Homo sapiens: one gene and its partner. The protein of the gene in region 2 interacts with the protein of the main gene of each other region in a biochemical or structural test. Each region holds a gene or a part of one and is shown on either strand. Other genes may lie near its edges.

Evidence for each region.
Region 1: the proteins of GID4 (region 2) and MAEA form a complex in vitro, tested with the Homo sapiens proteins (one study listed by BioGRID).

Annotation. Positions count from the first base shown.
Region 1 is NC_000004.12:1,292,727-1,296,641, reverse strand, and holds part of MAEA (E3 ubiquitin-protein transferase MAEA), read right to left. Parts: intron 1-3,915.
Region 2 is NC_000017.11:18,049,235-18,053,149, reverse strand, and holds part of GID4 (glucose-induced degradation protein 4 homolog), read right to left. Parts: intron 1-3,915.

The DNA of each region.
Region 1 (3,915 bases), on a different chromosome or scaffold from region 2:
AGGAAGGGGTTTTCACGAGAGGAAGACTCAGAGCCACGTGCACACCAGGGAGCTGCACAGCCAATGGGAAAACCGACCAACAGAGAGAGAACCAAGTGCAGGAGCAGCCACAAGGCAAAGGGCACAGCACAGGTGAGGGGGGCACAGCGCAAGTGAGGGAGGCACAGGCACGGGTGAGGGGGGCACAGGCACGGGTGAGGAACGGCACAGGCATGGGTGAGGGGTACAGGTGAGGAATGGCATGGGTGACGGCTGCACAGGCACAGGTGAGGGGGGCACAGGTGCGGGTGGGGGGGCACAGGTGAGGGTAGCATAGGTGAGGTGCAGATGTAGGTGGGGGGCGCACGTGAAGGTGGTGCAGGAGCAGGTGAGGGAGGAGCAGGTGAGGGAGGAGCAGGTGAGGGGGGCACAGGCACAGGTGGGGGGCACAGGTGAGGGCAGCACAGGTGAGGGCAGTGCAGACGTGGGTGAGGGGGGCACAGGTGCGGGTGGGGGGGCACAGGTGAGGGTAGCATAGGTGAGGTGCAGATGTAGGTGGGGGGCGCACGTGAAGGTGGTGCAGGAGCAGGTGAGGGAGGAGCAGGTGAGGGAGGAGCAGGTGAGGGGGGCACAGGCACAGGTGGGGGGCACAGGTGAGGGCAGCACAGGTGAGGGCAGTGCAGACGTGGGTGAGGGGGGCACAGGTGCGGGCGAGGGTGGCACAGGTGTGGGTGAGGGGGTGCAGGTGAAGGCAGCACAGGTGAGGGCGGTGCAGACACAGGTGAAGGGGCAAAGGCGCAGGTGTGGTGGGCACCGGCATGGGTGAGGAGGGCACAGGCGTGGGTGAGGGGGCACAGGCGCTGGGGAGGGGGGCACAGGCGCGGGTGAGGGGGGCAGAGGCACGGGTGAGGGGGCACAGGCGCGGGTGAGGGGGTACAGGAGCGGGTGAGGGGGGTACAGGTGTGGGTGAGGGGGTATAGGAGCGGGTGAGGGGGTACAGGAGCGGGTGAGGGGGGTACAGGTACGGGTGATGGGGCTCATCCACCACGGGTGTGGGAGCAGGTGCAGGTCAGGCAGGGTCTGCGTGACAGGCATGGGCGAGCATGAAGTAGGAGGGAAAGTCTGAGAGAAGGACAGGTATGAAAGGCTCGCCTGGGAGGAGAGGAAGGAGGCTGCTCTGGGCCCCTCCCTCGAGTGGGGCAGCACTCAGGGTCCCGGTCCGGGTCCACAGTCAGCCATCAGCACAGCAGGTGCTTTCTTCTGCTCAGCCACATTCAGCTCAACAGTCACTAAATGTGGTATTAACACAGTGAATAATTCTTTTTGTTCAGGTTTTCAAAATAATGGCCCCTAGCTATAACGATTCTGAAATAACAGACCTAAAAATCATCAGCAGTTACCCCGGCAGGAAGTGTGCTTTGCGATGCCTGGGTCAGCACCCAGACATCCCCACTCGGCCTGAAGCCCCCAGAGGGTGGGGCTCGCAGCACAGCCTCTCTGCAGACGGGGCAGTCACATGCTACAGGCACCGGCCGGCCTTGTCTTCATTCTGGTGCCAATGTGTCTCCTTGGGCTTGCTTCCCATTCTGCTGACCCCTGTACCCACAGACCGAGTCACTGCCCAGCACCCAGTCTCACTGTGAGACCCTCCCTGCACAGCTCTGGGACACCCCCAGCCACATCACCCCAATGGTGCTGTGTGCCTGTGTGCCTACTGGGGTGAGAGCCGGCCAGGACTTCAACACGGTCCACAGAGCCTCACCCCAAAACTTAGCTCCGCCAACCAGCTCACAATATCGCATTCACTGGAGGAAGCTCATCCCCACCCCCGCCCCTGCCCCTGCCCCTGCCCCCGGCCCCACCCCCGTCCCCTGCCACTGTCCAACATCACCTCAACCTCATCAGCGTCTTTAAAGGATCTGAGATGTCTGTGTGTGCTTGTGCTGATGCCTCCCTCCCACCGGAGCGTAGACAGGGGCCTCACTTGTCTCCCCATCATGCTAGCCCAGGGCCTGACTGTGCAGGGCCTGACCGTACCTGGCCGATGGAGGCTCTCAGACCACTGCTGCGGAGGGGGGTATGGGAGAAGCTAAGTGCACCTGCAGCCCTGCTCTGCAGCCCGGCGGCGGTGCCTTGCTTAGGTCCCAGGGCCGCTCCAGGCCTCACGTCAGTACTGCCTCCAACCTAGCCCAGCCATTACGGTGAATCAGGCATTAAAAAGCACTTTCTTGACTTGAAATGTGTTAAAAAAATAATACTTAAAAAAACAAAAACAAAACCAACCCCCCAGCTAGCAGTGAATTCAAGTCTACATCCTTATCTCAGCCTTGCCCAACCAGCTGGAAAGGCCCAGGCCTGGGAGGGAAGACCTGTGCCAGCGCGGAGGCCGCGGAAGCCAGCCCAGGGCCAAACCACCAGCAAACGGTGGGAGAGGCGAGGGGAGTGGAGCTGGGAGCCACAAAGGGCAGACCATGGCTCTTCTGGGCAGAAGGAATTTCCACTGTGCTCTAGAGACCGGGCGGATTCTGGAGGGCTGTGACGTTACTGCAGATAAAGTACATCGAAAAAGCCGGCCACAGAAGAGGTGGAGACCCGGCCTAAGACTCCTCAGACACGGCATCACCAGGGTCCAACCCAATGTGTGTGTCAGTAAGTCAAACGCTTCGTGGTTGCCTGTGTTTCTCACACTCGAGAACACATGATCCTCCCAAATCCAGCCAAGATGGAGTGAAGAAAACTACAAAAGGCGCAGGAGCAGTTACAACTTCAGCACACAGCTGGCACCCGAACTCCCTACCACAGGCACAGACCCAGGCTGTGAGGCATCAGGGCCATGCCTGGGCAACCAGACTGTCATCAAACCAAAGGCAGAACATGCAAATCTTCCTGTAGAGAATTCAGACACCTGAGAATGCAACCACAAGCCCGGTGTTTCTCAGCCTGTCCTCTGGGGAGAGGACAGCATCACCACCTTGGGTGTGAGAGGACTCACTGGAGCTGGGAACCCTTGCTGGGGCTCCAGGAGAGGAGAGGTGGGCCCAGGTGGGGTTCACAGAGAGGAGCCAGGTCCAGACCAGGGTCTCCAGGTGATGAACACCACTTCCCGCCCTGGGCTGTGCAGACACCCATGTGAAATTCTCTAAACTATTATTTTTCTTCGGCTATCTGAAGGGAAATAGTAGGAGTAAATACACCAAAATGTTAATGAAGTTCTCTCTGTGCAGCAGGGTAACTTGAAGAAAAAACAAATTACTTTTATTTATTTATTATTTGAGACAGGGTCTCACTCTGTCACCCAGGCTGGAGGGCAGTGGTGCAATCTCGGTTCACCACAGCCTGGATCTCCTGGCTCAAGTGATCCTCTCGCCTCAGCCTCCCAATTAGCTGGGACTACAGGCGCACACCACCGCACCCAACTCATCAAATTACTTTTATAATCAGAAAAAAAAAAACCTTTTACAAAATAATGAAAGCAAGGGCTTCCAATTCAAGATGGTGAACTATGCATGTTGAATTGAAAGATGGTGAATTCCTGAGGTCAGGAGTTCAAGACCAGCTGGACAACATGGAGAAACCACGTCTCTACTAAAAAATACAAAAAATTAGCTGGGCATGGTGGCGGGTGCCTGTAATCTCAGCTACTCGGGAGGCTGAGGTAGGAGAATTGCTTGAATCTGGGAGGCAGAGGTTGCAGTGAGCTGAGATTGTGCCACCGCGCTCCAGCCTGGGCAACAGAGTGAGACTCCGTCTCAAAAAAGAAAAAAAAAAAAAAAAAAGATGGTGAGTTATTCATCTTTCCCCTCCCCCACAAGGCATTACCCACCACCCTACACCGGACGGCGTTCACAGCATTTGACAGCAAAAAGACACAGCCACAGCCAGGACGCAAGGCTGAGTCCTCATGAGCCACACCTCCGTTTGGTAAGAGGAAGAAAC
Region 2 (3,915 bases):
CCCACCTACTCGGGAGGCTGAGGCAGGAGATTGCTTGAACCTGGAGGCGGAGTTTGCAGTAAGCCGAGATCACGCCATTGCACTCCAGCCTGGGCAATAAGAGTGAAACTCTGTCTCAAAAAAAAAAAAAAAAAAAAAAAGTAAATACTTTTTTCAGTGTTCTACATGTTCAGAGAAACTTCTAGTAATGAACTATACAAATGGTCCCTGAAGGTAGTCTTAGAATACCTTGATACATAGGGATACGTTTAATTCTGTCACATGAACTAAGAACAACTTATATGAGGAAAAACATATGAACTAAAAACAATTTATATGAGGAAAAACATATGTAAATCATGTCTGAATGTAAAAACCACACCGTGGAAAACGTAAGCAAGAAGCCATGTGCTGGCTTGGGTGCTTTGTTAATTGCTCTTTGTTCATGTGTTAATAAGTAGGCACCAATGATTTTAAAAAAGATTAATAAGACAAAAAGTTAACACCGTAAAAAGTCTACATTTCTCTGCATTTGTAGAAACCAACCAAGCACCCACCTCTCAGGCTACCTTGCCAAGCCCCTGGTGTCTGCCAGGAGCATGGTTATGAGAGTCACTGGCCTGGAAAACCACAGATTACAGTCCTAACATCAAGGACTGCAGAAGGCCCACGTTTTTCCTTCAGATCAGATGTAAGCCCCTCTTATTCTGCATCAAAAACCTCATTCTGATGGCTTTGCCACATCTACCAACCTGGCCTGCATGTAGTGTAGGACCTTCCTGAGAGAGGCTGCCACAGTAAAAGCCACTGGTGCAGAGGCTCCCAGGAAACAGAACGTCACCACCGCTGCAGGTGGCTCAGGAGGCCTGCTTTAGGATGACACCATGGAGGGGATCTGTTTCCTTAACAGTGAACTTAAAATATGATAAATCTAATACTGCCCCAAACCCACAACCCCCCTATCCTAACACTGTTGCTGGATTCTTCACATAAATATTTAAATACATAGACTGAAAAAATGAGAGAGGAGAAATTTTCCTAAATGTAAACCTAATTTTTAAGGTATAAGCTAACTTTTTTTTTTTTTTTTGGGGGGAGGGACAGAGTCTTGCTCTGTCGCCCAGACCGGAATGCAGTGGCACGATCTCGGCTCACTGCAACCTCTGCCTCCCGGGTTCAGGTGATTCTCCTGCCTCAGCCTCCCAAGTAGCTGGGATTACAGATGCATGCCACCACGCCTGTCTAATTTTTTGTATTTTTAGTAGAGACAGGGTTTCATGGTGTTAGCCAGGACGGTCTTGATCTCCTGACCTCATGATCCACCCGCCTCGGCCTCCCAAAGTGCTGGGATTACAGGCGTGAGCCACCGCACCCAGCCGGTATAAACTAACTTTTAATTATAATCTGTTCTAGGAAAGACTACTAAGGAAAAAAGTTCTCAATAAATCAGCACCTGCATTTGAGATTTTAAACTAGAAGCTATTTTTTTTTTTTTTGAGATGGAGTCTCGCTCTGTCGCCCAGGCTGGTGTGCAGTGGTACAACCTTGGCTCACTGCAACCTCCGCCTCCCGGGTTCAAGCAATTCTCTGTCTCAGCCTCCCGAGTAGCTGGGATTACAGGTATCCACCACCACGTGTGGCTAATTTTTGTATTTTCAGTAGAGACGGGTTTCACCATCTTGGCCAGGCTGGTCTTGAACTCCTAACCTCGTGATCCACCTGCCTCGGCCTCCCAAAGTGCTGGGATTACAGGCATCAGCCAACTACAAACTGTTTATATTATTTTTCCGAGTTTCAAGCTTTAATCTTTTTTCTGAACTTCCTTGAAAGGGATAGGATGAAATGATAAAGAGGTTTTAATACAAGGCCAAGCCTGGTGGCTCACACCTGTAATGCCAGCACTCTAGGGGGCCAAGACAGGAGGATCACTTGAGCCTAGGAGATCAAGATCAGCTTGGGCAACATAGTAAGACCCGGTCTCTATTTTTAAAAAAGGGAGGGGTGGGGAGGAGGTCCTAATATGATTAAAACACTTATGGTTTAAATCACTAGTTTTCTTAATGAATAATTCTGCATTGACTTCTTTGTAAACATACTTTAGGCAGTATATCAGGGTAACTACAGGGTACCCTCAAACTTTGAGAATTAAATAAAATAAATACCTAATAAATGAGATTCAGTGTGTACAGAAGTCACTGAAAAGATAAAATATTCTCAGAGCAGGAACAGGAAATTCAAGCACTTTATTACAGCCCAATGAGGGGTAATTTATAGAGCGGACGAAAAACCATGTCAGAAGAAAGGATATCGAGAAATGAATAACAGAGGCAGCAAAAGCAGGAGTGGGCATCCCTTGGTGGGTCTGGCTGTTGTCAGACATTTAAGTCCCCCAACTAATCCTCCCACTGATTCCAGGCTCACCCAAAACTGTGTGGTGATAGGTACCACGACTTTCCATGTAGACCTGTCTTCTGGAGGATTAACATTCAATTGGCCAATAAGTCAACAGGAACTTCTGGAACATACAGGAATCTCATTCTCTGACAAAAACTGGCACTTTTGTTTTTGTGAGTTTTGGTAGGTGTGACCTGTCTCCCTAGTTAAGCACAAGTCTAGCACAACTTCAGCTGGAGCTTCCAACCCTTCCAAACCCAAGTAATGAGTAAGTGGGGGGCCTGCCCATGGCCCCCAAAGGCTGGGCTCCCAGGTAACCCCTGAAAGCTGCTGGGTTCCCCGGAAAGGTCGCCTCTCTTGACTGACGGATGGCTCAAAAGTGCAAAAAGAATGTTATTTCATATTTATTCTTTACATTTCTAGAATTTCACTTCCAGAAGGCATGAAAACAAACTTTAAAGCTCCGTTTTGCAATGTGGCAATTCCTCAAAGAGTTAAAAACAGAACTATCATTCGACCCAGCAATCCCATTATTGGGTATACACCCAGAGGAGTATAAATCATTCTACTATAAAGATACATGCATGCAAATGTTCACTGTAGCACTATTCACAATAGTAAAAAGTGGGTCAACCTAAATGCCCATCAATGACAGATTGGATAAAGAAAACGTGGTATATATACACCAAGGAATACTATGAAGCCATAAAAAGAAATGAGATCATGTCTTTTGCGTGAACACGGGTAGAGCTAGAGGCCGTTATCCTTAGCAAACTAATGCAGGAACAGAAAACCAAATACTGCCCTTATAAGTAGGAGCTAAATGATGAGAACTCATGGGCTCAAAGAAGGAAACAATAGGCTCAAGCCTGTAATCCCAGCACTTTGGGAGGCTGAGGCAGGCAAATCACCTGAGGTCAAGAGTTCAAGACCAGCCTAGCCAACATGGTGAAACCCCATCTCTACCAAAAGTACAAAAAAAAATTTAGCCTGGTGTGGTGGTACATGCTACCTGGGAAGCTGAGCAGGAGAACTGCTTGAACCTGGGAGGCAGAGGTTGCAGTGAGCAGATATTGCACCACTGCACTCAAGCCTGGGCAACAGAGCGAGACTTCATCTCAAAAAAAAAAAGAAGGGAAGAACAGACAATGGGGCCTACTTGAGGGTAGAGGGTAGGAGAAGGGAGAGGAGCAGAAGAAATAACTATTCAGTACTAGGCTTAATACCTGGGTGACAAAATAATCTCCACAACAGTTACATAGGTAAACCGTGACATAAGTTTATCTATAGATCAAACCTGCGCATGTACACCCAAGCCTAAAATAAAAATTAAAACAAACAAACAAAAAAGCTGTGCTTGTTTGTGAATGTGAGGTAGCTAAGAGGCCATTTAGCTCCTTTTTTTTTTTTTTGACACTTATCTCCTTTTTTTTTTTTTTTTGACACGAAGTCTCACTCTGTTGCCGAGGTTGGAGTCCAGTGGCATGATCTGAACTCACCACAAACTCTGCCTCCTGGGTTCAAGCGATTCTCTTGCCTCAG